Homo sapiens: one gene and its partners. The protein of the gene in region 6 interacts with the protein of the main gene of each other region in a biochemical or structural test. Each region holds a gene or a part of one and is shown on either strand. Other genes may lie near its edges.

Evidence for each region.
Region 1: the proteins of WBP2 (region 6) and HOMER3 form a complex in vitro, tested with the Homo sapiens proteins (one study listed by BioGRID).
Region 2: the proteins of WBP2 (region 6) and DDX17 form a complex in vitro, tested with the Homo sapiens proteins (one study listed by BioGRID).
Region 3: the proteins of WBP2 (region 6) and WWOX form a complex in vitro, tested with the Homo sapiens proteins (one study listed by BioGRID).
Region 4: the proteins of WBP2 (region 6) and WWTR1 form a complex in vitro, tested with the Homo sapiens proteins (one study listed by IntAct).
Region 5: the proteins of WBP2 (region 6) and COPE form a complex in vitro, tested with the Homo sapiens proteins (one study listed by BioGRID).
Region 7: the proteins of WBP2 (region 6) and GRPEL1 form a complex in vitro, tested with the Homo sapiens proteins (one study listed by BioGRID).

The regions. Positions count from the first base shown.
Region 1 is NC_000019.10:18,934,622-18,939,099, forward strand, and holds part of HOMER3 (homer protein homolog 3), read right to left. Parts: exon of another isoform or gene 4,429-4,478; 5' UTR 4,362-4,428; coding exon 4,348-4,361; intron 4,264-4,347; coding exon 4,107-4,263; intron 3,864-4,106; coding exon 3,732-3,863; intron 1-3,731. UniProt on the Homo sapiens protein: Postsynaptic density scaffolding protein. Binds and cross-links cytoplasmic regions of GRM1, GRM5, ITPR1, DNM3, RYR1, RYR2, SHANK1 and SHANK3.
Region 2 is NC_000022.11:38,488,727-38,493,204, forward strand, and holds part of DDX17 (probable ATP-dependent RNA helicase DDX17 isoform 1 precursor), read right to left. Parts: intron 3,390-4,478; coding exon 3,330-3,389; intron 1-3,329. UniProt on the Homo sapiens protein: As an RNA helicase, unwinds RNA and alters RNA structures through ATP binding and hydrolysis.
Region 3 is NC_000016.10:79,210,564-79,213,798, reverse strand, and holds the end of WWOX (WW domain-containing oxidoreductase), read right to left. Parts: exon of another isoform or gene 2,192-3,235; coding exon 2,003-2,191; 3' UTR 1,132-2,002; downstream 1-1,131. UniProt on the Homo sapiens protein: Putative oxidoreductase. Acts as a tumor suppressor and plays a role in apoptosis. Required for normal bone development. May function synergistically with p53/TP53 to control genotoxic stress-induced cell death.
Region 4 is NC_000003.12:149,535,510-149,539,987, forward strand, and holds part of WWTR1 (WW domain-containing transcription regulator protein 1), read right to left. Parts: intron 1-4,478. UniProt on the Homo sapiens protein: Transcriptional coactivator which acts as a downstream regulatory target in the Hippo signaling pathway that plays a pivotal role in organ size control and tumor suppression by restricting proliferation and promoting apoptosis.
Region 5 is NC_000019.10:18,898,676-18,903,027, forward strand, and holds the end of COPE (coatomer subunit epsilon), read right to left. Parts: intron 1,775-4,352; coding exon 1,706-1,774; intron 1,273-1,705; coding exon 1,198-1,272; intron 1,052-1,197; coding exon 1,004-1,051; 3' UTR 839-1,003; downstream 1-838. UniProt on the Homo sapiens protein: The coatomer is a cytosolic protein complex that binds to dilysine motifs and reversibly associates with Golgi non-clathrin-coated vesicles, which further mediate biosynthetic protein transport from the ER, via the Golgi up to the trans Golgi network.
Region 6 is NC_000017.11:75,848,352-75,852,829, reverse strand, and holds part of WBP2 (WW domain-binding protein 2), read left to right. Parts: intron 1-1,153; coding exon 1,154-1,262; intron 1,263-3,090; coding exon 3,091-3,226; intron 3,227-4,167; coding exon 4,168-4,260; intron 4,261-4,478. UniProt on the Homo sapiens protein: Acts as a transcriptional coactivator of estrogen and progesterone receptors (ESR1 and PGR) upon hormone activation. In presence of estrogen, binds to ESR1-responsive promoters. Synergizes with YAP1 to enhance PGR activity.
Region 7 is NC_000004.12:7,065,265-7,069,256, forward strand, and holds the start of GRPEL1 (grpE protein homolog 1, mitochondrial precursor), read right to left. Parts: upstream 2,801-3,992; 5' UTR 2,769-2,800; coding exon 2,707-2,768; intron 1,363-2,706; exon of another isoform or gene 916-1,362; intron 1-915. UniProt on the Homo sapiens protein: Essential component of the PAM complex, a complex required for the translocation of transit peptide-containing proteins from the inner membrane into the mitochondrial matrix in an ATP-dependent manner.

The DNA of each region.
Region 1 (4,478 bases), on a different chromosome or scaffold from region 6:
ACATTGAGAAAGGGAAAGGAATTCCCATGTCCTCTTTTTAGGAAAGGGTCTCACTTTGTCACCCAGGCTGCAGTACAGTGGCATGATCTCGGCTCACTGCAGCCTTGACCTCCCTGGCTCAAGTGACCCTTCCACCTTACCCCTCCACCAAGGAGCTGGGACTACAGGTGTGTGCCATCATGCCCGGCTAATTTTTTCTAGAGACGGGGTCTAGCCATGTTCCCCAGAATGGCCCTTTTCCTGTTTTTTGTTTTTTTTTTTTTTGAGATGGAGTCTTGCTCTGTTGCCCAGGCTGGAGTGCAGTGACATGATCTTGGCTCACGGCAGCCTCTGCTTCAGCCTCATGAGTAGCTGGGATTACAGGCATGCACCAGCATGCCTGGCTAATTTTCATATTTTTAGTAGAGATGTGGTTTTACCATGTTGGCCAGGCTGATCTTAAATTCCCGGCTTGAAGTGATCCGCCTGCCTCAGCCTCCCAAAGTGGTGGGATTACAGGCACAGCACCCAGCCTTTTTTTTTTTTTTTTTTGGGGGGGGACAGAATCTCGCTTTGTCACCCTGGCTGGAGTGCAGTGGCACCATCTCAGCTCACTGCAACCTCTGCCTCCCAGGTTCAAGCGAGTCTTCTGCCTCAACCTCCCGAGTAGCTAGGACTACAGGCCCGTGCCACCACGCCCAGCTAATTTTTGTATTTAGTACAGATGGGGTTTCACCATATTGGCCATGCTGGTCTCGAACTCCTGACCCCGTGATCCACCCACCTCGGCCTCCCAAAGTGTGAGAATGACAGGTATGAGCCAACATGTGGGGTCCCTTTTAATCTTTATCAGGGCTATTTCAACAAAGAGAGCCTCAGGTGGGTGCTAATCTGTCTTTAACACCTGTTATTATTCCTTTATAACAAAGAGATTAGGTCTCAGGCTCTGAGAGACATCAGAAGTCAATGAGAAAGTAATCATCTCATTCTTGTTTTTGTTGTATTAAATGTTTACATGTTTACATTTACCACCTATTTATGACAAAGCAATACCAGTTTTCCAGTTAGGATAGGATATGTTTCCCCCCACCACCCCGGTTTTAAAATAAATTTCCTTAGTTTAAAAATAATTTTTTAGGCCGGGTGCGGTGGCTCACACCTGTAATCCCAGCACTTTGGGAGACCAAGGCGGGCGGATCATTTGAGGTCAGGAGTTCGAAACCAGCCTGGCCAACATGGTGAAACCCCATCTCTACTAAAAACACAAAAATTAGCCAGGCATGGTGGTGGGCGCCTGTAATCCTAGTACTTGGGAGGCTGAGGCAGGAGAATTGCTTGAGCCCAGGAGGTGGAGGTTGCAGTGAGCTGAGATTGTGCCATTGCACTCCAGCCTGGGTGACAGAGCAAAACTCTGTCTCAAAATAAATAGATAAGGCCATGTGTGGTGGCTCACGCTTGTAATCCCAGCACTTTGGGAGGCCGAGGCAGGTGGATCATGAGGTCAGGAGTTCAAGAGCAGGCTGACCAACATGGTGAAACCCCATGTCTACTAAAAATACAAAATCAGCCAGGCATGGTGGCACATGACTGTAATCCCAGCTACTTGGGAGGCTGAGGAAGGAGAATTGCTTGAACCGGGGAGGCGGAAGTTGCGGTGAGCCGAGATCGCACCATTGCACTCCAGCCTGGGGGACAAGAGTGAAACTCTGTCTCAAAAAAATAAATAAATAAATAAATAAATAAATGATTTTTTAGGCTGGGTGCAGTGGCTCACACCTGTAATCCCATCACTTTGGGAGCCTGAGGCAGGCGGATTACCTGAAGTCAGGAGTTTGAGACCAGCCTGGCCAACATAGTGAAACCCTGTCTCTGCTAAGAATACAAAAATTAAAAAAACAAAAATTTTGTAAAAATACAAAAATTAGCCAGGTGTGGTGTGTCTGTAATCCCAACTACTTGGGAAGCTGAGGCAGGAGAATTGCTTGAACCTGGAGAGAAGAGGTTGCAGTGAGCCGAGATCGGGCCACTGCACTCCAGCCTGGCAACAGAGCTAGACTCTGTCTCCAAAAAAAAAAAAAAGACCTAAATTAGAAAGGTAAATTGTTGGGGCCGGGCGCGGTGGCTCACACCTGTAATCCCAGCACTTTGGGAGGCCAAGGTGGGTGGATCACGAGGTCAGGAGATCGAGACCATCCTGGCTAACACGGTGAAACCCCCGTCTCTATTAAAAATACAAAAAAAATTAGCAGGGCGTGGTGGCAGGCGCCTGTAGTCCCAGCTACTAGGGAGGCTGAGGCAGAAGAATCAGAAGAATGGTGTGAACCTGGGAGGCAGAGCTTGCAGTGAGCCAAGATCGCGCCACTGCACTCCAGCCTGTGCGACAGAGCGAGACTCCGTCTCAAAAAAAAAAAAAAAAGTAAATTGTCTGGGTGCAGTGGCTCAAGCCTGTAATCCCAGCACTTTAGGAGGCCAAAGTGAGAGGCTCGCTTGAGGCCAGGAGTCAAGAACAGCCTGGACAACATAGTGAGATCCTATCTCTAAAAAAAATAAGATTAAAGATATTAGCTAGGCATGGTGGCATACGCCTATAGTCTCAGCTAGTCAGGAGGCTGAGGTGGGAGGATCCCTTGTGCCCAGGAGTTTGAGGCTGCAGTGAGCCATGATTGCACTGCTTCACTCCAGCCTGGACAGCAGAGCAAGATCTTGTTAAAAAAAAAAAAAAAAAGAAGGGAGGGAGGGAGGGAAAAAAAAAGAAGAAAGGTAAATTCTAAACCTTCTAGAAGAAAACAAAGAAAGCCTGGTGTGGTAGCTCATGCCTGTAATCCCAGCACTTTGGGAGGCCGAGGCAGGTGGATCATCTGAGGTCAGGAGTTCAAGACCACCCTGGCCAACAAAATCCCATCTCCACTAAAAATACAAAAATTAGCTGGGCGAGGTGGTGGGCACCTGTAATCCCAGCTACTCCAGAGGCTGAGGCAGGAGAATCGCTTGAACCCGGGAGGTGGAGGTTGCAGTGAGCCGAGATCGTGCCACTGCACTCCAGCCTGGGGGACAGAGCAAGGCATTATCTCCAAAAAAAAAAAAAAAAAAAGAAGAAGATCTTCGTGAAAGCACTCATCATCAACAAAACCACGGATAAAGATAATAATGGAAGTATAGAGACGGCACAGGGTGCAGGGAGGTGAGGATGAAGGTATTGCTGGGGCATGTGGGAAAGTGCCCAGCCCAGCCCAGCCACCCATTTGATGTCCCAAAGAGGAGCAGGGTGTGTCCAAAATTAGAGCTACAGGCAGTAGAACTAGGACTCAAGAGCAGGTACAGTGGCTCATGCCTGTAATTGCAGCACTTTGGGAGGCCGAGGCAGGCAGATCATTTCAGGTCAGGAGTTCGAGACCAGCCTGGCCAACATGGTGAAACCCTGTCTCTAATAAAATACAAAAAATTAGCTGGGCGTGGTGGCGGACTCCTGTAGTCCCAGCTACTCAGGAGGCTGAGGCAGGAGAATCGCTTGAACCCGGGAGGCGGAGGTTGCGTGAGCCAAGATCACTGCAGCCTATCTCAAAAAAAAAACAGAAAAATGAACTAGGAATCAAACCGGGGAAGCTTAAAGGGGCTTCAGTCTCAACTCATCCTACAATCCCATCCTGCAGATGGGAAGATAGGGGACCTGCCCAAGATCCCAGAGTGAGCCCAGGAGAAGACTTGGGCCCAGTCTCATCGGTTCCCTCCACTCTCCCCCTCACCCGGCCCACCTGTGTCAGATGCTGTTCAGAGGCAAAGCCCAGGCCGTAGACTGTGTTGGCGCGACTGTCGGCCCACTGCCCGAACTTCTGGGAAGTTTTGGTGAAGGTCATGTTGGGAGTGACAGTGCTGTTGATGATGGCCTAGGGTCGGGGAACAAAGTTCAAGGTAGATGGGACAGATACTAACAAACATGAAACCCCCCAGGTATTACCTTGTATTAGGGTCTTGAAGGTCTTTACTCTGAACCCTTTCAGGAGATAGAGACTAGGGCCTGGGAAGGCTTAGGGTTTCCTGTCCCTTGGGCACACAGCAAGCCAGCCACCAGACCCAAGGTTGTCACCAGGACTCCTGGTGCCTCTGCCCCACCCAGACCCCACCCTGACCTTGGCGCCTCCGATGCTGATGATGCGGTACACATTGCGGGTGGCATCGTAGAAATAGGAGACAGTGAGTGCGTGCTTGCCCGCTGGGATCCAGTTTCGCTTGGTGGCTGGGTCAATTTGGAACACGTGCGCCCGTGTGCTGAAGATTGGCTGCTCCCTGCGTGGGGAGAGGGTGTTTGGTGGGGGCCAGGCACCCCCACTTAGAAAGCTCAGGGCCAGGCTGGGGGAGGTGGGAGCTCACCTGGCTGTGGACATTGGTCAGGCTGGGATGGGCAGGCTCTAGGGGGCAGCCAGAGAGGTGGCAGGAGCACTGGTTTGGCCCCTAGGGAGAGAGGAGGGACTATGAGTGTCCCTCAGGCCAGGCTGAGGGAG
Region 2 (4,478 bases), on a different chromosome or scaffold from region 6:
CACACCTATTTTCCTTTGCAGAAACATCCAGATTATCTATCCCCTTTCAATTACAAGAGCACATTACACTAAAATTTTACTGTACTACCAAGCCCAGCTTCTGCCAAAATGAGGATATTTTTGCTCAACTCAAGGTTATTTCAACTCAGGACTTGTTTCAATTATCAATGATTGTCTACGTGACCTGGGAAATTAAATTAATAGCCAAAGAACGTGGGAAAACCATGAAACCTTGAGACACAAGTTTAGTATTCTCTCTACTGCTGGGAATTGGGCTGAATAACCTCCTAAGGCTTAAAATGTAAATGTTAGTGTAATGCTTTCAGCTGAATGTATATTTTTACCTACTTAAACAAACAATTTTAAGAATATAACAAAGAATCCTACTGTTTTGTGGAAAAAAATCTGCATTTTACAAAGAATATTCAGAAAATATCCTAGATAAAACACAGATTTTTGTGATATAAATAATTAAAAAACATTCTCTGTTTGTTACCAGACCGATGCACACTCCCTCCTCCTTTGGGAAACCGCTGCAGCCGATCCCGTCTCTTTGCCTTTTATTTTTGGCGGCCTCCTTTCGAAAACTCCGCCTTCTGACACGGGACCACTGGAGCGCGGGGAGCATGCATCAAGGGTCCGTGGCAGTGAGAAGTCCCCACACACGCTCGCTCTGTGAACTGGCTTAGATGCTTCTCTGTAGCCCCATTTGGTTGCCAAGCGCCGGAGAACCTGGGTTCGGGTAAAAATTTCAGGTCCTCCAACGCCTCCCCCAAGGATAATTGGGGTGATTGTAGAAAAAAATAATTAATAAAAAAAAATGTAAGTTACATCCAAAGGGTCAGACTGCATCTATTGCCCAGACTGGATTAATTTCAAGGGAGAAAGGGGAGATTAAAAAAAAAAAATTAGCTGTTGTTACAGGGCTTGTGAAGAAGGGGCATTATGTCTGTTTCTTATTACAATAAAGGCTCCTCGGTCTTTACTGACCCCTAAAGTCCTGAATCACACCAGAAAGACGAGAAGGCACTTATCACAGGGGGCAGCTTGAGTCTCCGGCTAGGGTCGTTGACGCAACAAAGGAAAAAAGAATTTACAGGGCCAGGGTGGATGTAAGACAGGGGGTGGGGAATTCTACTCCATGGTATCTTCAGAGCTAGGATAATGCTCCTTATGCAATCCCACTGCATATGACCATGGCAGTAGAACAAGTTCAATTACTACACTGGATGCGTTAAGTGTGCTTTCCTAGCAGAAAGCACCAGGGTGGAGTCAACAGTTCACATGCTAATACTTGGAAGTATTTCTAGAAGGGGGTGCTCAATAGAGGGCAGACATGATGCAAGTTCTTCATACTAGAAAGGTGTCCTGTGTGTGCATGCACAGCTGGATGGGGGCACACAGGAGCAAGCGCAGAATTTGGTTTTCTCCAGTCAAGTCTACCCTGATGTTATCTGTGCACTGCCACAATATTATCTTGCTGCCTTTCTAGAAGATGCTGTAGCAGGGTAAGAAATCCAAAGTTAATGTTTTGGCCAGCTGACTGGGATAAGAACCTTTTGTCTGAAAGGCCCTATGACATGGCCTGAATCGCCAATCACTAATAAGGAGGGACTAAGTCTAGCCAAGAGGCTCATCTAGAGCTGCTTCCGGCCAATGTAGATTTGTCTCGGCCATGTATTGAGTGATCTGCAGCTGATATCAAAGCTTCTGTTAAAAAACAAAACAAAATAAATTCAATACTTTTAGTTTAACAGTGTGTAGTTCAAACAAAAAAAAGGAAAAATAAAAAATATCCCAGTGGAAAGGGAAGTGGTAGCCTAAGGATGACTATTATAAAATTATGGGAATCAAAGAACTTACCTGAAGGGAACATTTAAGAGACCATCGCTTGACAGGAAGTGAAAAAAGGCCCTGGTGACTCAGCTGAAAATTGCACCCCTGTCTATGAGGTAGAAGCCTTCACTTTCCAGGATCTTGTAGGACATTGGTCAGAATTCTGCCATTTTGGTGGGTTTTCTCCCTCTTTTGATTTTTTACAAGGCAGCAAACAAAGGGGCCCAAAACAAGCACTGATGTTGAGTAACAAGAAACAGACTCGGGTACCTTCCCTCTCCCCTCACTTGGATGAGTGGGGGTGGGATGAAGAGTCTAAGTTATTCTAATGGTAGCCAATTAATTTGGTTTAGAAATGCAAGGGGACATGGAGCAAATATTTTTAATTGTCTAGGCAAGATGCACAAAGAAGCTACCAGCACATAGCAAGCCTGTTTAAAAACCAACCATTACTGAAAGCTTTATGTAAACTGCTTTCAGGCCTCCGCCTCCTCTCCCAACAGGCCCAAGTTCTAATGGCACAGATCCAGACATGACCTCAGAGGGCAGAGGGGCAGAGAGAACTTTCCATCATGGCTGCAGGTCACCACCTCTGAAGGAGGGAATGATGAGTGCAATGCATAAAAAGGCTTCATTACTTTTGTATTCCAGTTTGAATACCTGTTCTCTTTATATTATATAGTATAAGGGAATAATATGGTACTTCTCACCTTACTGGGCAAATTAAATACCTGTCAATAATTTAAGGATTTCCTTGTAATACAAATAATCTTTTTTTTTAAAATATAGAAGTTCTGAGTTAGACCTGTTTAGCTCAGAATAGTGGGCTAAACTACCATAAAATTCTCTGTATATCTTAAATGGTAATGGGTCAAAAACTCCAGAAAATCATCAGTTGATAACACACCTACAGATAAGTGCATGGGTAGGAGGGGATAGCCAAGTGCCCATGATAATTTGACCTCAGTAAATTAAACTGGGCAATACACATATTTGCTATTCTGATACTGCATTAGACTTATAAAATTCCATCTAATAAGCATTCATAAAACTGGACCTCTCTGTATATATCTAGCTTAGACAGGGATAGGGAAAAGAATAACTGAAGAAACTAGCTTACAATAGCTAGGTTTCGTCAGGCTTATTCTATCCAGCCAGAAACCACCACCAGAGAGAAGCTGAGCCATTCAGCTGTCTGTCTCCTCTCCCTCTGTTTGAATAGTCATGCCTAGGCCTTGCTGCAGACCAAAGCCTGTTTGTTAGGAGCAGGAAGAGACTTTGAAAATAAAAGGGGGGTGGGGGAAACCAAAGTTAAAAAAAATTGTGGGGGGGGCAGGGAATGGGGAGAATCACGCTTTGTATTTTTTTCTTTCAAATATTTATCTAACCACATGTATATACAACTTTCTAAACTTGAAGTCTGAATTTGAAATGACGAATCTTTAAACCAAAAGATACATATACCATTGACAGAGACACCTATCTATACAAACCTAGCCCACGGGAGGCTACATCTGTAGCAATAAGGATGGGTGCCTTTCCAGAACGGAACTCTGTAAAAACAAACAATAATCATCATCAAATAAGCATTCCTTGCTATCTGATCTGTTTACATAACCATGTTAAAATTTCAAATAATGGTGCCAGAAAATCCCAAGCTCTTGTAATGACTGACAGTGATTCTTTTGAAAATCTTTATTACACTCATATTCAGCAGCACAATAGTTACCTCTACTAATAATGAAATACCGTTAAGAGAGTGTGGCAATTTGTTACATAATTAATATGAGCTAGATTTTTTTCCCCTTAAAGTTATTTCCCAAATGAGACACAACCAAAAGTTGGGGGTCAGTAGGAAACAAGTTCAAAAGATGTAGAATGAAAAGAACTGAATTTCCCCCCAAAAGGTATGCATATTATTTATTTTTCTTTCTTTTTTTTGAGATGGAGTTTCGCTCTTATTGCCGAGGCTGGAGTGCAGTGGCGCAATCTCAGCTCACCGCAACCTCCACCTCCCGGGTTCAAGCGATTCTCCTGCCTCAGTCTCCCAAATAGCTGGGATTACAGGCATATGCCACCATGCCCGGCTAATTTTGTATTTTTAGTAGAGACGGGGTTTCTCCATGTTGGTCAGGCTGGTCTCGAACTCCCAACCTCAGGTGATCCGCCCACCTCAGCCTCCCAAAGTGCTGGGATTACAGGCGTGAGCCACTGTGTCCGGCCACATTTTATTTCTTAAACAAAATATGGCCTCTTCCATTTCTCAATGGCTTCCCTTAAGAGTAGTCCTGAAAAAAAGGACTGAAAGGAAATATGCTAAAATATGACTCATTAAGAAACATTTTTCTTTAAATATTTCAGTAACAGTTTAATTCTCCCCAAACGGTAGTTATATTTTTATAATCAGAAGGAAAAAATTGAAGACTTTATTAATAAAGGGAGGGTGGTGAAAGTTGTGAAAAAGTTTAAAGAGCCAGCATCGTGGCCCTTAAAGAACCATGAGCACACGCTAAAAGTACCCTCAGTAATTCAATCAACTATACAACAGGGGTAAGACAAACTGGCCTTTGGGCCAAATCTGGCACAACGCCTATTTTTGCAAATAAATATTGTCTGAACATAGCCACGTTTATCTCTTTGAG
Region 3 (3,235 bases), on a different chromosome or scaffold from region 6:
CTATCTTTTGCATTGCTGTGAGTGAAATGTGCAGTTTCTTCTCCTCTGAATTGGCACAGCTGGGGCTGGATAGTCTGGGATGGCCTCACTTACATGTCTAACTAACTAACTGCTGGATGCCGGTTCTGGGAGTGACTACGTGTCTCTCATCATCCAGCAGGCTAGCCCAGGAGCCGTTCCCTATGATGGAAGTTGCAGGGTTCCAAAGATCAACAAGGAAAGGCAAGCCCCAGTGCAAAGCACTTTCCAAATTGGCCAAGGCCAGTCACATGGCCAAAGTCAGAGGTCATATGGGAGGGGTGATCCCCTCCAGGTGTAGATTCTGAGAGTGGAGTTCTGACGGCTGCTTTTGCAAATGACAATAATGTCTGAAAAGTGACATTATCTGATTCATAGTTTCAAAGGTCCTGTGATAATAAGGATTACGTAAGGAAGACTATAGCCAGATGGGAGGATGTGGCAAGGCTATGGGCCACTGGAGGGCAATGGTGTTTGTTTGTTCGACTGCTCTGCACCACAGATGCAGAGGCACAGAAGTTCAAGACATTGTCTGGCCTGAAGCTGCCATGATCAGGAGGGGGAACAATGACACCCAGCCTCCACACCTTCCTGGTATTTCAGCAGAAGCATTTTCTCCGTCTTGCCAGAGTGGACTTTCTCATGTGCTTGCTGGAACGGGCTGGAAATCATGGTGTCCATGAGATGGGATGCGCAGATAAGAGCTTCTGCACAGCTCCCATTCTCAAACATAGAGATACCCGCTAATCACTAAGTACTTGCTAATTGCAGGGGAGCAGACCATTGAGGACTAAAATAACTCACTGTAAGTAAGTAATAACAAAACATCTTAAGGTGAAATGAAACAATAGTCATTTTTCTTTTTTCTTTCTTTAACAGAAAATATGCTGGCATGCTAATCGCGTGAGACAACTTGGCCCACGGACAGCCACAAAGCACAAAAACAAAACACAAACTCACTCAGAGAAGAAACAAGAATCGTGTTTTCCTGGCATCTACGAGAAGCGCTTTATTAGAAGCGCTTTATTTTTCCTCTAGATTTCTTTTCTAAAAAATGAAAAACAAAAACAAACTGAAACAAACATTTAAAGAAACAATACAAACTTCAGGTGATGATATTCAAGCATGTTCTTTTATTAAGCATAGGATGCGAGGCACAGCAGGAGGTTTAAGTACAATGTGAAAGCAAGAGAACTGAGACTGTGATTGACAGACAAAGGGATTAACTAACGTTTTATTCTCTGCCCCCCAAAATATCCTGTGTATTCTTAAGTATATACGCTTCCCTTCCTGCCTTTCAAGGTATCTAAGGAATGATTTGAAAAATTTGTTATAATCTCTAAAGAATTTTTTGCATAGCATTAGCAAAGGAGTCTATGACAAGTACTTTGCCACCTGGTAGTTCTGCGTATTCTACTCCCTCTGGGTGTCACTGTCATCCTCACTGGCTGGGACAAGGTTCTGAGATTTGTCTCCCCAGCAGTTGCTAAGCTGGCTCAGTCTTGGTCAGGATGAATGAAACAATTATCTCCTGGATCAATGCAGCAAGGAGCAGTGAACACTTGCTTTTTCTTCCCTAAGTAGGAGAAGGCCAGCCCCCGGCTGCAGTGGTGGCCGTGGTGGTAGCTGGATGGGACGAGGGGACCTCAGGCTATTCTATAACAGTAAAAGAAAGAGAATTGCTGGTGCTTCTCCAGGGAGATACGGAACCTACACACCAAGCAGGTTTTTACTTTCAAACAGGCCACCACCAGAAAGCAAAGAGACCTATGCCTAGCCCAGCCCCAGAAAAGTGATACTTTACCCCAGGAATTCCCTGCTTCCCATTGGTACTTAAGATTTTTCACTCTGTTGTGACTGCTCTTATTTCCTTTACTCTTGCGGATCTGTGTTGGAGGGACATTTGGAAGGGGCCCAGCCCTGGCACTTGCGTGAGGGGACACACACAGGGCGGGTGTGTGTGCCCATCCGCTCTGAGCTCCACTTAGCCGGACTGGCTGCCAAGCCGTTCTTGGATCAGCCTCTCGCTGAGCGCCCACAGGGTCCGGGCCGTCTCTTCGCTCTGAGCTTCTGGTGAGGGCATGCAGCGGCAGCAGTTGTTGAAGTACATCCCTCCCAGACCCTCCAGTTCTGGGACAGCAGCACAGTACACGGTGGTGGCAGCTCCCTGTTGCTGGAAATCCAAGAAGAAAGACAAAAAAAAATTTTAAGAAAAGGAGTGATGAGATGGCGTCATTTCGACTGCCTGGGCATTAGCAGGCCTCCCCCACCTGGTTCAGTTTCAGCTGGATCTTGGCATAGCAAAGGGTACTGGGCTGAAAGCACATGACTGTAAAAAGTATAATGTGACTATCCTGGAAAAACGAGTTCATAAACTCCGCTTGTAAAGCTGGTGTAACTTTTGACACCTCATACAGGGACAGGCTTGGAAAATAAATACACATATCAATACGTCGTGGCAGGCGCCTCTTCCACACAGAGAAAAAGATGGTATCCTTCTGAACGTGCAAGAACAAATTCATCCAACCCCTCAACTTCTCCATGTATAATGTAATTCGATACCAAATCGTTTGTAGAACCTTCTGTCTGACAAACCAACCACTCTTAATTGTGGTCCATCAGGTAGAAAACCCAAGTGGGGCTGCTGCCAGATCATCCCTTTATGCTTTGCCCACGGTGCTGCTAGGGGAAGGGTTGGCAATGTTGTGTTAAAACATTTAATGCACACACACACACACACACACACTCCTCACCATACATTCATACTTAGCACAAACACATAACACATTAATTCATCCAGATCCCATGAAAACCTTTTTCTAAATGTCATATTTGACCCAGATTTACAATGGGACCACAGGTAAGGGGGTACATTTCCTCCCAGCCCACTTCAAAATGTAAGTTGCAAAGAGTGCAGCTGATCACTTTCATTCACCTTTTGAGTAACAGTTGCGGCTGTGGCTAGGGACGTGTGCAGTGATGAGGCATCATATCATCCAAACTGACAGAATACTGTCAGGGATGCTATAAAGAGGGCAAGAAATCACTTTGCTTTGCAAGCCATAATTAAAAATAATAGGCTGCTGTTCAGAGGGAGACATGGTCGGCACGTCTCTAATTTAAAACCAATACAGTTTATCTGGCATCTTATGATTATTTATGTGTTTCAGAGCCCTAGCTGCATCCACTAATTTTCAGCTGATGAGAGGGAGAGGGG
Region 4 (4,478 bases), on a different chromosome or scaffold from region 6:
CCTACAAAAGAACAATCGAAACTGCGATACTTTTAGGAAGCCATTTACTAAGTTTGTCATTATTATCTATGGTCTATTTGTTGCTCTTTTTACTCAGAGTGCATAAAGCAAATTTGTATTATTCCACAACTGGTTTCTGTTGTCCTTTCAAATCACATTAAAGAAAACATTATAATTTAGATACTCGTCTGTCTTCACTTAAAAAAAAAAAAAAAGGCTGAGGCCTGGTGCAGTGGCTCACACCTGTAATCCCAGCACTTTGGGAGGCCAGGGTGGGCAGATCACTTGAGGCCAGGAGTTCGAGACCAGCCTGGCCAACATGGCAAAACCCCGTCTCTACTAAAACACAAAAAATTAGCCAGGCGTGATGATGCGCACCTGTAATCCCAGCTACTCAGGAGGCTGAGGCATGAGAATCACTTGAACCTGGGAGGTGAAGGTTGCAGTGAGCCAAGATTGTGCCACAGCACTCCAGCCTAGGTGATGAAGTGAGACTGTGTCTCAAAAAGAGAAGAAAAAGAAAAAAAAAGACTTGAATTGATACTATTGTTCAACAACAAGGGCACACTGGGACATTTTGGAAAATGGATTATTTCTGGGACATGTAAGCAAATAAAACGCTTGACACAAGCTAGAATGGAAGCTCTGTGAGGGAAGGGGCTGGGGTCTGTTGTTCACAGCTGTACTTTTAATGCCTAGAGCATTTGTAAAACAAATATATGAACGAATGAACTTAAATAGCCAAGCTTATATGGAGGGATTTATAGATTCACAAAATATTAGACTACGTGACCTCTGTTAACCCAGTCAACTCTGAAACCTAATGCTATGAAATGCTTTTCTAAAAGTTAAATAGTCCCCTGTTCTGAAGCAAAGGCTATGAAATAGCCTACATTTATGCTTCATGATCTGCTCCAATACGACACTCTCCTAGCTCGCTAAATAGCTATTCTTTGCATGACAAAAAAAAAAAGGGGGGGGCCTCAGAACCTTCCCCAGGCCAGTGCTGCTCACAGCCAGGTGTGTCCCCCTCCAGGAGCCCTCTGTCAGGATGGCTGTGCGAGGTCAGCCAGCTGGCCCGCCGCGCCTGGTGGCTGTCAAGCCTGGCAGAAATCCCACAGACCTGCCAAAAGAATTCCGAGGCCTCCCTCTTTTCTCGTCCCTGTTGCCCCGGCGACCCGAGGCCAGGCTTAGTCAGCATTTTTGTTTGACAAACTGCATTCTCCTGTCCCCCAACCCCCAAATTAAAAAAAAAAAAAAAAAGAAAGAAAAGGTTGAGGGTAAAAGCAGGGCTGAATTTGCTTTGGGAATAATGATTTCTCTACAAGGCAGCCCCCGTGAAGGGACAAGGGGGAGCCAAGGCTTTGCCACTTACTCGTCTTCCAGGTCCTGGTCCTCGAGGTTAAAATCTTCCAGAAAGATGGCCCCAAACCGTTATATTTAAATGAATAACACACATGAAAAGAAATACTCTCTTCAGGTAAAGCCATATGCCTGTTTTCATGTCAAGGAATTGTTCTTTTAGATAAACAGGCATTGAGAAGCCTGTTTCTCAATGTCTGACCTGTGACTACGATTTCCCACTTCATTTGGTAAAGTTGCAATTGTGCCTTTTAGGATACTGAGCAAATATTGCGTTGAATTTTTCAGTTGTAACAACAGAATACTCTGTAGTCATTGTGGGTGTGTGTGGCTCATGACATTTAAAAATTTATGTACGGCCTGTTGTAGAAAGGATTCTAGGCGCTTTGGAATGGGTACATACAAAGTCACAGCACAACTTCATGGCTGACACAGAATAAAAAAATGACTTCCCAATATATTAAGAAGAGGCAACAAAGCAGTATTAAAGTATGCTACCACTTTTGTGTTTTAAAAAACAAAGTAGACACATTGATACACATGATACATACAAAAAGACTAGAAAGAAATCATCAGCATATTTACAGCCACTCTTTCTAGGTAAGAGTATAGGTGATTATAATTTCCTTCTTTGTTGTTTAGTATTTTATACATTCCGTACCATAAACATACGTTTTGTCTTTTTGTGTGTAGCAATTCGTTTTCTTTTATTATTCTTTTTGTTTACATACAGTAAAATTCACTCTTTGTGGTATACATGTCTGAGTTTTGACAAATGTAGAGCTGTGAAATAGCCACCACAACCAAGACACGGAACTGTGCCATCTGCCCCACAATTCCTCAGTGCTGCCCCTTTGGAGTCTACTCTTTCTGTACTGTCAACCCTGGCAAGTGCTCATCTCTTCTCTGTCCCCATAGTTTTGCTTTTCCAGAACGTCACATAAATGGAATCATACAGGATGTAGTTTTGGGGGGAAGTCTGGTTTCTTGCACTTAGCAAAAACACTTTTTTAAATGCTAATCACTAAAGTAACTCAGTAAATTATATTTTTAATTTTTTTTTTTTGAGACAGAGTCTCACTCTGTTGCCCAGGCTGGAGTGCAGTGGCTCGATCTCAGCTCACTGCAACCTCCACCTCCCAGGTCCAAGAGATTCTCCTGCCTCAGCCTCCTGAGTAGCTGAGACTACCGGCACCCGCCATTATGTCTGGCTAATTTTTGTATTTTTACTAGAGACAGGGTTTCACCATGTCGGCCAGGCTGGTCTCGAACTCCTGACCTCAAGTGATCTGCCCGCCTTGGCTTCCCGAAGTGCTGGGATTACACGCGTCAGCCACCACGCTTAGTCAAAAATTAAAATTTTTTTCTACTTAAAAAAACTCAACAAATCAAATTTTAATTTCCTTAAAAAAATGAAGAGAAAGCAAAACTTCAATAAGAATTGCTTTTTTTTTCTAGAGTTGCCATTTCTTTGGTGAACCTGAAGTAGCCTCACAGCCTTTGGGAAATTCAGTAAAAATAAAAGAAAACTCTATCACAGACAAAAGACTTCCTTTCACAGAAATGCACTCTTTATGTCTTCCATGTTAGATTCCTGGTACCCCTCCACTTGAAGTGTCTGCCGCATTCCAAGATAATTCATCAATTATCAGATACAAGTAGCTCAGCTCTGTTGCTACACCAGCCAATGCTAGATTGGAGGGACTGCATTTAAGGAAATTCTCCTGCTTCAGAAGATTCCTTATCAGCAGAGATACCAAACCTTACTGGCTCTTTTGATCCTAATTCTGTAGCCAGTAACCTGAGGGGTCACTGGAAAGAAAAAGGAGTATCTGATGCTCACTTTCACAGAACTCTGCTCAGGTGCATCTGGTCTCAGTTCCAGTAATGAAAGTCAAAGATGGTAGCCACTGGGCCCCTGTGAAGCAGGGAATGGTTTTAATTTACTCTTCTGGTCTTTAACTTGGATTAAAGTTAATTATTTTTCCTTTTCTGCAAAAATACAAGTTATCTGAAGGCAGTCACATCCCATTTACCTGTCTGTTATTTTCTACTAAATAAATATTGATTGAATGAATGAAGAGATAAAGGAATGAAGGAAGGAAAAAAAATATGAGCTTCCATACTGAAATAATGAAGGCTCACTTTAGATTTGTAATCAAAGTTTCCTCAGATCCATTTTGTTAATGTTCTCGCATGATTTCAATGCCAATGAGTTAATAGGTGACCCTTTGGCATTGTGGTATACATCAAATCATGCAACAAGGACCAAGGAGTTGTTTTTTTCATGGCACAACATCATCAAACTATATGCCTAGTGGAACAACGGCATAGCAGAAGGAACAGGAAGAAAAATGAAACAATATTTATATAGCATATTCTCCACAGGGATCTTTCAGATTCGTCGTATCATTCAAGAATGATAAAACTATAGACAGCGTGATAATTTATTAGTAATTAGGGGATAAATTCATCTACTTATTAAATTTTGCCAACCTCCCTTTCTACTACAGAAAGAGAGCATAGCCTGGGGCCTTGCTCCCAGACAGGCTCAGTTGGTAGAAGGGCAGGTAGGTCTAGGCCTACCTGCAGGGCCTGGGCCCCAAGAAGACAGGCTGTACAATTAAGGCCGCCTACAAGCAAGAGGAGAGCCAGTGTAATTACAAACTGTCCACTGAGCAAGGGATATTCAGGCAGTTGTTGACTACCCAGGACATAGGGGTAGGACAGAGAGAACAAACAGAAGTGTACAGATAATCTTTAAATTTCACCAGAACCACCACTTCCCCCATCTCTCCAAATTCCTACCAGATGCTGGAAGGCAACTAAACAAGTGAGCCAAAGATCACTTTTAATTCCAGTCCATTTCCCTGCTGCTGCCATGGCTTAGGTTCAAAAAGTGAAGCAGAAAATCACCAAAAGAGTTCAAAAAATCCACCAAGATGAAACACAGAGCCCACACCTGAATACTGAATAATCAGGTGTCCTGGCAAATGCCCCAGAAAACTATTATAGAACACTCCAATGCCATTTATTATATGGTCTTAAATCATATCTTTGACAATCAGGAGCATGCTGCTTCTGCATGGGGAAAAAATCTGCCATGATTAAAAAGT
Region 5 (4,352 bases), on a different chromosome or scaffold from region 6:
GTCCTGCCCTGGCAACCAGAGACGGGGTCTGGTTTCAAATGAATAGGCCTGGGTGTGGCTTGGGGAAACCCAGTCTTATCTTTTCCCTGGGAGATAAGCCCAGGCCAGGCTCAGAGGTCAAAGGGCATGCATCCCCATCCAGCGCCCCTTGACCTCACAGCCCTGTGCCACCGAGGGACCTCTGCACCGGTCATGCCCACTGCCAGGGTGCCTGTCCCCCTAGAACCTAGCCTGGCAGCTCCTTTTTGTTGTTCGGGTGGGCACAGCTCAATGGTGACATCTGGGAGGCTCCGGCCAGCCCTGCTGCCACCCACCCACCTCCCTCCCTAAATGGTGCGGCCGCCTCTCATCGCGGCTGGGTGCTTGGCCCCAGGACCCTGCCACAGCAGGACTCTGCCTTGGAGGAGGGTTTGCGGGGCGGCAGGAGCAGCACCTGGGGTTAACGCTGACCCTGCAGGGCCCCTCCGGCTTTGCTGAGCTGAGGCCTGAGTTTTTCCTGCCCTGGCCCCCACTTCCTCCAGGCCACTAGGGGTTCTCATTTTGAATCTTGGTGCCCCTCATGATAGCGGCATGACTTCTCTGTGCCTCAGTTTCCCCCGATGCCAACCAGGGCTGCTCAGTGGCCTCTAGGGGCCAGGGTGAAGCATGGGGACAGGGCTGTGCTGCCTCTGGCCTGCAGGAGCAGGTTGTGGCTGTGTGAGGGGCGGGGTGGGGGTCTGCACACCTGCTGCTCGTCACAGACCCTGGTCTCCAGGAACAGCCCTGGATGCCAGTGCCCCAGGACTCTCCCTGAGCGTCAGCTCCCACACGCCCCCAGCAAAGTGACCAGAGCACATCATCAGGTGGAACACCCTGGAGTTGAGATATTTATTAACAGATGGGGGTGCTGGGGGTGGGCTCCTGCCCCCAGAGGGGATGCAGGTGGATGCCGGGTGGGGAGGGCTGCAGGGCTGGCTCCTGGCCTCTGTCCTGGCTTCATGGTCCTGACAGCTCTGGGCCAGCCTCAGGCGCTGGGAGCGTACTGTAGCACCAGCCTGTCAAAGTCGTTCTCCTTTAGCAAGACACATGGCAACACAGGGTGGGGGCAGGGTGTGGGGAGACAGGTGGAGGGAGAGAGAGAGGGCGCATGTGAGCCCAGGCTGAGCTCCAGGCGCCCCCTGGCCTGGTTCTCGGGGACAGGCCATCCCCACCACTCACCTTGGCCTGGTACTCCTTGATGAAGGGATGGGACCTGTGGGCATCCTTCAGCTGGGACAGGTATCGGTTTGTCACCTGCAGGGGAGGCAGGGAGGCAGGTGAGCCGAACACGGGGACCCCACGGTGGCTCTGACCTGCTGGACAGGGGTGGATTGGGGTGAGAGCCACAGTACCCCAGGGGGCTCCTCACCCTGCCTTGGGACTGGGCTGATCTCGGAGAACCTTCAGGGTGGGGGTGGAGGGATGGGCCTGCCCCCTGGAGAGGCGCTGGCATGGAGCTGGCCTCCGTACATGGTGGGGGATGTATTGTGGTGTTCAGGGGAGCAGGTCGGGCAGGGCCCCAGGTGAGGATGGGTTGGGGGGCACAGGGTTTGTGAGGGAGGTGGGCTGCGGTAGGCATACTGTATACAGAGTTTTCCCAGGGGCCTAGGGATTAGGGCCTGGACCCCAGGCTGGGGTCCCAGGGTCTGGACATTAGGGTTGGCCTGGAGCCCTGGGGGCCGCTTACCTCAGGGGGCTTGCCCAGGTGCTGGGACAGGACGATGAGGTTGACCAGCGTCTCTGGGTAGCCACTATCCTGGAGACACAGGCAGACACGGGGAGGCAGGGTCAGCCACTCCAGCCCCCATGCCTGCCCGTCACCCCCACCTCAGGCAGCACCACACAAGGTCACCTCCTCAGAGGTGGGGTGGGACTGACACCGCCCACCGCTCTGCAAGGTGGAGATCTCAGATGATACGGTGCCAAGGGGCCAGCCGCCTCGCTGAGCCTCAGTTTCCCCATCTGTAGTCCAGCCTGGGGTACGACCCCTTGTTTACAGAGACTTGGGAAGGTTGTATTTGTCCCACACATCTCAAAGCCATGGGGCCCAGACCCAGATGGCCTCAACTCCTGCTGTACAACGAACCCCGAGGCCATGGGCAGACCTGCCACCCCTGCACCAGCTCCCAAGGAGCCTTGAAGGAGACCTCGGCAGGGGACCTTGCCTGACTCACTCACTCTAGGCTCCCAGCACACAGGACCCTAGGAAACATCTAGGCCAGGAGACCCAGCCAGAGCCCTGGTGTCTGCTTGGAGCACAGACACACCAACGAGGATGCGCCCAGAGCCCGACCTGCCCACGGCGGCCCATGGCAGGGCACCTTTTTGCAGACCGGACTTTTCTGAGCCTCAGTCTCCACCATGAAGGGGGACACCAGCTTGCGCTCACAGGAGCAGCCATGAGGTGGCTCCAAAGGGAAGTGGGGGGACCTGAGTGCCTCCCAAAACCCAGCAAGAATGCAGGGTGACCACAGCCACGGGGAGGCCACCAGGGCCAAGGGGCACGGCCAGCCAGCCCCAGGTGGTGTTTCAAGAGACAAGGACAGAAGGGAGTCATCTAACTGGTGAGTCACGGAACGTGTCACCTGAGAGGTGTAACAAAAGCCCCCAGAGGATGCGGCCATGAACACAACATGCATCCAAGTGTTCTCAGGTGGCAGGGAGGGGCAGGGTGGTGGAGGAGGGCGCCAGTCTTGCCCCTGGGGCAGCGAGGGACACACAGCCTGTCTGAGATTGCACATCAGGCTGGGAGTTCCTGACTAGCCCTGACTGCTCAGAGCTAAAGATGGACCCTGCTCAGGAGGAGCAGTACCCGGCCTGTGATGGGGCCAGCCTGATACCCCTTGGCCAGCCCCGCTCTGCAAACAACTTTCTGATGATAACTCAGCCCCTGGAAAGTCAGACAGGGAGGAGGGCTTCACCAGTGTTTGTCACTAGATTAAAACTGTTTCTCAGCTGGGCGCACTGGCGCATGTCTATCATCCCAGCACTTTAGAAGGCCAAGGAGGGTGAGAATTGTTTGAGCCCAGGAGTTCAAGACTAACCTGGACAACACAGTGAGACCCCATTTCTAACAAAAAATACAAAAATTAGCCACGCATGGTGGCATACCGTTTCAAAAAACAAACAAAAAACCCCCCAAAATTCGTTTCTCCAAAATGGAAAAAGCTTTGATGTCCTTTCTGATTATAAAAATAATAATCCAGGCTGGGCACAGTGGCTCACGCCTGTAATCCAGTACTTTGGGAGTCCAAGGTGGGCAGCATCATGAGGTCAGGAGATTGAGACCATCCTGGCTAACACAGCAAAACCCCATCTCTACTAAAAATACAAAAAATTAGCTGGGCATGGTGGTGGGCGCCTGTAGTCCCAGCTACTCGGGAGGCTGAGGCAGGAGAATGGCATGAACCCAGGAGGCAGAGCTTGCAGTGAGCCGAGATCACACCACTGCACTCCAGCCTGGGCGACAGAGCAAGACTCCATCTCAAAAAAAAAAAAAAAAAAAATCCACCAAGCATGGTGGCTCACACCTATAATCCTAATGCTTTGGGAGGCTGAGGTGGGACGATCACTTGAGGCCAGGAGTTCGAGACCAACCTGGGCAACACAGCAAGAACAACCCCGTCTTTACAAAATATATATATATTTTTAATTTAACATAACATAAACTCTTCATAAAGACTGCAGATGGCCAGGCGTGGTGGCTCACGCCTATAATCCCAGCACTTTGGGAGGCTGAGGCGGGTGGATCACCTGAGGTCAGGAGTTTGAGACCAGCCTGACCAACATGGCAAAACCCCGTCTCTACTAAAAATACAAAAATTAGCCAGGCGTGGTGGCAGCCGCCTGTAATCCCAGCTACTTGGGAGGCTGAGGCAAAAGAATCACTTGAACCCAGGAGGCGGAGGTTGCATTGAGCTGAGATCACACCACTGCACTGCAGCCTGGGTGACAGAGTGAGACTCCATCTCAAAAAAAAAAAAAAAGAAGAAAGGAAAGGAAGGAAAGGAAGGAAAGGAAGGAAAGGAAAGGAAGGAAAGGAAGGAAAGGAAGGAAAGGAAGGAAGGAAGGAAGGGAAAGAAGGAAGGAAGGAAGGAAGGAAGGAAGGAAGGAAGGAAGGAAGGAAGGAAGGAAGAAAAGACTGCAGACATCAGGCAGGAGATGACTGCAGCCACCCTGGGCAGGCAGCGCTCTCTCAACGAAGAGCTCCTGTCCACAGCACACTCTCCCCTACATAAGTACGGGGAGTGTCTCTCCAATACTGAGTATGTACTCAGGTGAGGGGTCCCACTTGCAGGTCCCGGGCCAGGCAGCTGAGGTGACAACAAGGACGG
Region 6 (4,478 bases):
ATATTTTAGGCTTGAAAAACAAACCAGCAAAAACAGAACATCTATCACAAGGACTTAAAAGAAAATAGAAGAGTTGGCCGGGCGCAGTGGCTCACGCCTGTAATCCCTGCACTTTGGGAGGCCGAGGCAGGTGGATCACGAAGTCAGGAGATCGAGACCATCCTGGCTAACACGGTGAAACCCCGTCTCTACTAAAAATACAAAAAATTAGCCAGTCGTGGTGGCGGGCGCCTGTAGTCCCAGCTACTTGGGAGACTGAGGCAGGAGAATGGCATGAACCCAGGAGGCGGAGCTTGCAGTGAGCCGAGATCACGCCACTGCACGCCAGCCTGGGTGACAGAGTGAGACTCCGTCTCAAAAAAAAAAAAAAAAAATAAAGAAAATAGAAGAGTTAAGCCAGATTATCTAACTTGCTTGAGGGATGATGGCCTCTTCAGAGCCCTGTAGCTCTGCTACCATGTTGATCATTTGGGGGCTTTATAAGCGGGGTTTGGGAAATTTTACAGAACCCCCAACCTGCTCATTTCTTCCATGGCTATATTAATGGGTTTTTTTGTTGGTTTTTAGTTTTTTTGTAGAGATGAGGTCTCACCATGTTGCCCAGGCTGGTCTCAAACTCCTAGGCTCAAGCGATTCACCCGCCTCAGCCTCCCAAAGTGCTGGGATTACAGGTGTGGGCCACTGCGCCTGGCCCTATGAATGGCTTTATTTATTTATTTGTTTTTGAGACAGAGCTTCTCTCTTGTTGCCCAGGCTGGAGTTCAGTGGCGCCATCTCAGCTCACTGCAACCTCTGCCTCCTGGGTTCAAGCGATTCTCCCGCCTCAGCCTCCTGACTAGCTGGGATTACAGGTGCCCGCCACGGTGCCTGGCTAATTTTTTTGTATTTTTAGTAGAGATGGGGTTTCACCATGTTGGCCAGGCTGGTCTCAAACTCCTGACCAGGGGTCATCCGCTCGCCTCGGCCTCCCAAAGTGCTGGGATTACGGGCGTGAGCCACCGCGCCCAGCCCTATGAATAGTTTTAATGCCGCACTATTGAGAGGTTATGAGAGCTGACGTGCCGGGCAGCTGCTTGGGAGAAAGGCCCAGTGTCTGGGTGACGTCGCGTCTCCATACTGTCTCATTGAGGCTTTTCCTCTTTTCTCATCACAGCATCCTAATGTCCTATGATCACGTGGAACTCACATTCAATGACATGAAGAACGTGCCAGAAGCCTTCAAAGGGACCAAGAAAGGCACTGTCTACCTTACCCCTTACCGGGTGAGTTGCACAGCAGGGCAGTTGGTTGAGAGGCTTGTTGCTGTTGGAGGTGACGTGAGTCTTAGTCTCAGGTCTGCCTCAGCCTCATGAGTCAGGTGGCCTCTGAATCCTGGTGAGTGTTAGTGCTTCACTCTGCCTGTTTCTCTGTCACATGCTCCTGGATTCCAGAATCACCAGGCTCTTTGTGTAACTGACCTGACCACTGGGCAGTGAACCCATGTCAATTCCAGAGCCGCTGCTGCAAAATCTCTATAGAGTTGGATGCAGCCGCTGGCATGACTTGGGCCTGGAGGCCAGACTATTATTATTAATATTTTGTTTTCTGTGAGAGTAGCCCATGAAGCCCTGTGTGTATCCAGAGTGAGAAATCCAGTAAACAGGGTACAGTTGCATGGCACGGCCTCCGGACTGGGCAGAGAGCCCGGTACCACCCCGCAGAATGACAAATGCCAGGCTGCAGAATGGGCCCTGCCTGAGAGTTACCCACGTGGACTCTGAGAGGTTGAGAAATACAAATGGATGTTCTTGGAAAAGGATTGCTGCCTGTGGCTACTCAAGATTTAGACTCAAAGACAGGCTGGTGCGGAGGCTCATGCCTGTAATCCCAGCACTCTGGGAGGCCAAGGTAGGCAGGCCACTTGAACTCAGGAGTTCGAGACCAGCCTGGGCAACATGGCAAAACCCCATCTCTACAAAAAATACAAAAATTAGCTGGGTGTGGTGGCACATGCCTCTAGTCTCAGCTACCCGAGAGGTAAGGTGGAGAATAACTGGAGCCTGGAGAGGTTGAGGCTGCAGTGAGCTGGGATCATGCCACTGGATTCTAGCCTGGGCAACAGAGTGAGACCCTGCCTAAAAAAAAAAGACTTAGACTCAAAGACAGCTGGAAGAAGAGGAGCACATTTTCAAGTTTTAATCTCCATGACTTCACAAAGACAGGAGAGTCTCAAAACCCCATCTCTGGAGGCTCAACTTGGCACCTTCAGTCACAGATAAAAGTCGTGGGTTTAAAACCCTGGCTGGGGCCGGGTGCGGTGGCTCATGCCTGTAATCCCAGCACTTTGGGAGGCCGAGGCGGGCGGATCATGAGGTCAGGAGATCGAGACCATCCTGGCTAACACGGTGAAACCCCATCTCTCCTAAAACTACAAAAAATTAGCCGGGCATGGTGGCGGGCACCTGTAGTCCCAGCTACTCAGGAGGCTGAGGCAGGAGAATGGCGTGAACCCGGGAGGCGGAGCTTGCAGCGAGCCAAGATCGCGCCACTGCACTCCAGCCCAGGCAACAGAGTAAGACTCCATCTCAAAAAAAAAAAAAGAAAAGAAAAGAAAAAATAAAACCCAAGGGTTTCTCCAGGCACAGGCTCCAGGAGAGCTCTTGTTGCTGTTTATAGCCCCCCTCAATGGGAGCTAGCGACCTACTGCACCATCATTCTCAGTTCTGGAGAGTTCAGGCTGGAGACCCCCCTCTTTCAGGAACCCATCCCTGCCTTGCCTCTGCCTGTCCTTCCCTAGCTTCGTAGGCCCCTTCACTTAGGCAACACTGCCACCACCCCACCACGTCAGTGACAAAGCAGTCTGCCCTGCTCATAGATACTATCTGTGACCAGCACGTTTTTCTCCCGTGTGCGTGAGCTTGGCCTCTCCAGGCTGCGGTGAGCCCTTTCCCTTTCCAAAGCTCTCTCCAGGAGTGTCTGGCACAGAGAGAGCCATGGGGCTGCTGGACCCTGGCACTGGGAGAGGATTCGTCACTCCCAGGAAGCAGGCGGGAAGCATGGCAGCGTGGGCTGTGCTTCTAGTACTGATGGCCTCACCCTCTCTCCCTGCAGGTCATCTTTCTGTCCAAGGGCAAGGATGCCATGCAGTCCTTCATGATGCCATTTTATCTCATGAAAGACTGTGAGATCAAGCAGCCCGTATTTGGTGCAAACTACATCAAGGGAACAGTGAAGGCGGAAGCGGGAGGTAGGTGATGGGAACTCAGGGACACGCATGGGGCCTGCAGGGAGGTGTCCTGGGAACCTCTGACTGCCGCCGTGGGGGCGTCCCCTTCAGACCCTTATCGCCCTAGCCATGACCTCTTCCCAGCTCTGGGCTGCCAGCTGGTGGGGTTTGATTGCCAAGAGGTGGGGAAAATGCTGGCATGAAAGACAGCAGCTCAGATCAGCTTTTCAGAGCGTGAAGTCTGCAGAAGCCTGCGGACTGAGTCAAGATGCTTAGTGCAACTTGGCGAGCGCATACAAATTTTAGACTCAGGAAGGAGCTGCATCAGGTTCTTGAGAGGGGCCTTTTCATGAGAGCCAGGAAGAGGCAGCTGCCTCTGGGAAGCCAGAGTCACCCTGCTTTGGGGCTGGCTTTTTGGCAGGCCCCAGAGACCTCTGCATTGAACTTGCCTTCCCCTTGACACCCAGCCAGGCCCGCCCTTGCTATTGAGACACTCTTGGTCCCCCTTTGGGCAGAAGCCAGGCTAGAGGGGCCGGAGTCTGTCCTTGGGCCCCCTTAGGACGAGAGGTCTGCTCTGAATTTTAAGGTCGGCTGTTGCTGAGTGGGCTTGTTCCTGTGAAGCTGCCGAGTGCTTGACTGGGGGCGGAGAGAAACCTTGATGTGGCCTTGGCACCCGTGTACATATTGGGCCAAGGGTGGGAGGACAGGCTTGTTCCAGGAAGGAGAGGCCATTGTTCCAAAGGGGGAAGCGAGTACAGCAGGGCCAGGCCAGGCTGCAGTGCTGGCTCCTATGCAGGCAGCAGGCTGGAAACCATGGCACCAGGAAGTCCCCATCACAGTGCAGGCCCAGCCCCCGCAGGCCTCCCGGGCGTTGGATGAAGTCCTGGAGAGGAAAACAGCCATCTCTTTGGGCATAAGTTTTCTTTTCCTGTGCTGTTTATTCACTGTCCTTCCCCTTTCAGGTGGCTGGGAAGGCTCTGCTTCCTACAAGTTGACTTTCACGGCAGGGGGCGCCATTGAGTTCGGACAGCGGATGCTCCAGGTGGCATCTCAAGGTATCCAGGCTCCGAAGATTAGGGGCTAAAGACACACTAAACATGTAGGGGTTTGGTATGAGTTTGCTTCCTTTTCGTTTTGCTTTTTCAAGAACTCAAGAGGTAAGTGTTTGGGCACCAGGCTGACCAGGCCTAGGAGTTGGGAAGGAAAGCTGTCATTGGCATCAGCTCTGTCCTGTACCTCAGAGACTGCGTTTCCCTGCCTGGGGCAGGTGGAT
Region 7 (3,992 bases), on a different chromosome or scaffold from region 6:
AGCACTTAGGGAGGCCAAAGCAGGTGGATCACTTGAGATCAGGAGTTCGGGACCAGCCTGACCAACATGGAGAAACCCCGTCTCTTCTAAAAATACAAAATTAGCCTGGCGTGGTGGTGCATGCCTGTAATCCCAGCTACTTGGGAGGCTGAGGCAGGAAAATCGCTTGAATCAGGGAGGCGCAGGTTGAGGTGAGCTGAGATCGCGCCACTGCACTCCAGCCTGGGCGACAAGAGGGAAACTCTGTCTCAAAAAAAAAAAAAAGTGATTAAAAAAAAAAAGGGAACTAAGTGCTTTGTGCTTTGGGAGGCTCAGAGTAGAAGGAGATACCTAGCTTGGGGAATGGAAAACCATGAAAGGCTTTGTAGGATAGGTAAGAGTTACGAAAAAGGGATCAGAGGTGGGACAATGGGATAGATGCAGCTTCAGGAAGATGAAACTGCTTGGACAAAGGCATGAAGACAGGAAAGCATGGGATATGTACCGGTGAAATAGACCAAGACCAAGTGATAAGCCCAGGTCACAAAGCCATCAACGAATGATAAAATAAAGTCTTAAAACCTAGATTTCTTCACCAGGACCAGAGGACCTCTTTTTTTTTTTTTTTGAGACGGAGTCTTGCTCTGTCACCCAGGCTGGAGTGCAGTGGTGCCATCTCGGCTCACTGCAAGCTCCGCCGCCCGGGTTCACGCCATTCTCCTGCCTCAGCCTGCCGAGTAGCTGGGACTATAGGCGTCCACCAACACGCTCGGCTAATTTTTTTGTATTTTTTTAGTAGAGACGGGGTTTCACTGTGTTAGCCAGGATGGTCTAGGATCTCCTGACCTCGTGATCCGCCCGCACCCGGCCAGGACCTCTTTTTAAATTAGGCCACAGTCCTATCTGAGAATAAGCTACATTCAATTTTCTTCCCAGATTAAAACTGCTTCAACGAATAGGAAGGTGAAGGCTGCCAGCACACAGAACTCAGTCAAGGCTGTTTATTGCAGCACTGCGAGCGACAAGTTGGAAACAATGTTTGTCAGCGAGCAAATGGTTGAATAAACTTGCTAACACAATCTGGAATATTATGCAGCTCCTAAAAATGAGTTAAACTGCCATTTATTGGATACACTTTGGATGTTCTGTTAAGAAATGCAACTTACAGAGAAATACACAAAACAGGATCCTATTTTTGTAAAGACAAACTAGAAATCCTGTGTACTTATTAATATCTTAGATCTGTGGAAAGAAGTGGAGTGGAAGCCTCCATTACAGTCTTGCCATGGGGGTGGAGAGCGATGACCATTTTATATTTTTACTCTTGTGAATTTAAAAAGCTAAGAATTTAAATAAAAACTGAGTGTACTGTTGTGAAGCCCACCTTCCTCTCCAGTTGTTCTGCCTGGGGGTGTGACAGCCACCAGCCTTTCTGCAGGTCAGCTCTTCACAGACCCCTTTCCGAAGCACAGCCAACACAAAGTGTGGCCAGGAATGTGCAACAGGACCCACACCCGGGGCCATCTCGTTCTGCAGAGGGAAACTGAGTCTCAGAAAGCCTAGTTACTCTGAGAGCTATGACTACCAGTCAGTTCTCCTGCCTTTCCCTAGTTGAGCATCTTTCCACAAAACTACCATTCTAGAGACAGAAATGATGCTGACTTGGTGGTCACTTTCCTGGCAATTAATTCCAATACAAAACCACCAATTACTTGACCAAAGTCTTTTTACTCAAGTATTCCACGTGGGTCGTTGCTCTTGGCTCCTGTGTTGTTAAGATATAATTTATTAAGCTAGCACTTACCCCTTAATCACCTAGACTGAAAGTGATCTTCACCTCACCTGCCTGCTCTCCTTCAGGAAAGAACTACATCTCACTGCCCAGCTTTTGGCCAATTTGGCCCTCAGTGGCTTCTCTAATCAATAACTTGGTTCTAGGCACTTCCTCCAGCAAGTACTTGCCATACTAACTTCTAAAGTAGAACTTTCAAAAAGCAGAAGGGGCAGATTTGAGGGGAAAAAAAAAAAGGGGCACTGTCTCGTGGCCCTCAGGCCCGAAATGTGCCCTTGTCTAAACAAACTCTTCGCCCAGCAGCAGCACAGGTTCGACTGCTCTTTTGACCTCAGACGCTGGAGAAGGCGGAGTGAAGGAATTCGAGGTCGAGTGGAAAAAGCCCGTGAACGGGCAACACGCACCTTGCGACACGAAGTTTCCCGAGCACCGCTGTGGCCCCGGCCTCGAGCTGCGGCACGGAAATGAGTAACCACAGCTCCTGCCCAGGGCACACCCGGCCCGGCTCGGCCTCGCTGCGTGACCTTGGACAAAGCTCGAGCTTCTTTGGTCGCTTCTTCAACCGCACAAGTTGCGGCTGCCTCTGCGCCCGTGAGCGCCGAGACCGTGAATGCGCGCGAGGCGTCGCCGCAGGCCCTGGACCACACGCGCACGTGGGCCACCGTACCTTCCGAGCCAAACGCCCCCCGCGCTGCGGTCCTCTCCTCCTGACACGGCGCCCGCCCGCTCCACGCTTCCCAAGCCCTGAGCTGGCAGCCTGGCAGCAGAGCAGGCCCCAGCGGGGCGGTCCGCGTCCCGCGGCGGGGAACCGCGAGCCCGGAGATGCCCAGCTCCGGGGCCGAGGCCGGGAAGGAGGCCCCGGGGCCGGGAAAGGCCCCCATCGGAGCGGGAGGTCGCGCTGCCACCTCCACCCAGGGAGACCAAGTGCCCCTTACCTGAGAGACAACGCCAAAGCAGGAAGACTGCGCCGCGCCAACCTCACGCACTGAGCCGCCATGACTGCCACTGCCCGTCGCAGTCGCCGCGCACGCACCAAGCGTGCGTGCAGGCAGCTATACCCACTTTTCTGCCCTACTACTTCGCCTCAGCCAATCCGTAATCGCTTTTCCTGTTATGGACAGGCAATAGTCACCAATAATTGTGGGTCACGGAAGAGCATCTTTCCCCACCCCCCGGTGGGCGGGGCCTGAGGCGTACCGGAGGCCCTGAAGAGGTGAAAGGTGAAGTGAGCATTGGGAGGAGCCTCCTGTGGGCGTGGCGATGCCGGGAGGAGCCAATGAGGAGGCAGCGTGAGGGGGCGGGGCCAGCGCCGGGGTGGGGCGCGCGCGTCGCGGGCCGGGAGGGACTTCAGAGCCTGGTTTTGGGTAGGAGTGAGGCGGCAGCTTGTCGTTTCCCGGCCCGCACCCGCCCTTGCGCTGACACCGCGGGCCTTCCTTTGCTCTGGGAACGAGCGTGGGGAGCCCTGTTCACCCTCACACCCCGGCTCCAGAGCGGCGCGGAGCACTCCATGTTTGCTAAATGAAAATGAAGTCTCGGCGCGAGCGCCACCCAAACGGCGGCGTAGTTGCTTGAGAACCGCGGAGGCAACCGCTTGGGAGGGCGCCCCGACCCCGAAGCTGCTTCTCCAGGCGCCCGAGGCGGAGAGAAGGCACTGGGGTCTCCGTCTCCACCAGTGATTTCTGGTGAAACAGGAAACAAAACCCGGGAAACAAATGGGACGAAATGTTGGCGGTTTTGATGCTGGATGATGGGAATATGGGCGTGTGTTTTGTACCTTTCTGTTATCTTCAGTTTTCTCAAAACACGAAAAACAGACTAAGAACAGCGCATAGAAAACATTGGGGCACAACTAAAGCTCATAAATGCACACGTTTTCATAACCTGACCGAGGTCCATGCTGCTGTAGCGCATACCCCCAAGAACAGAGGGCCGCGTGTTCTTATGGCCCCGGTGCCGGCCCCCAAGCGGGGTTCCCGCAGGAGATAGGGCCTGGCTCCCGCTTCAGCACCGCGTGGCCTGGAGTGCAGTTCTGGCGGCCAAGATCTGAGGGCTGTAGCCCGTGCCCTCACCAGGATCCCAGACTTAGAGTCCCTGCCCTCCCCGGGATCCCAGGGCTCGATCCTGTGCCCTCCCCGGGATCCCAGGGCTGGAGCCCATGCCCTCCCCAGGATCCCAGGGCGCGAGCTGGTGGCTTCTCAAGCGGAGTTTTGCCTGCTTGTTA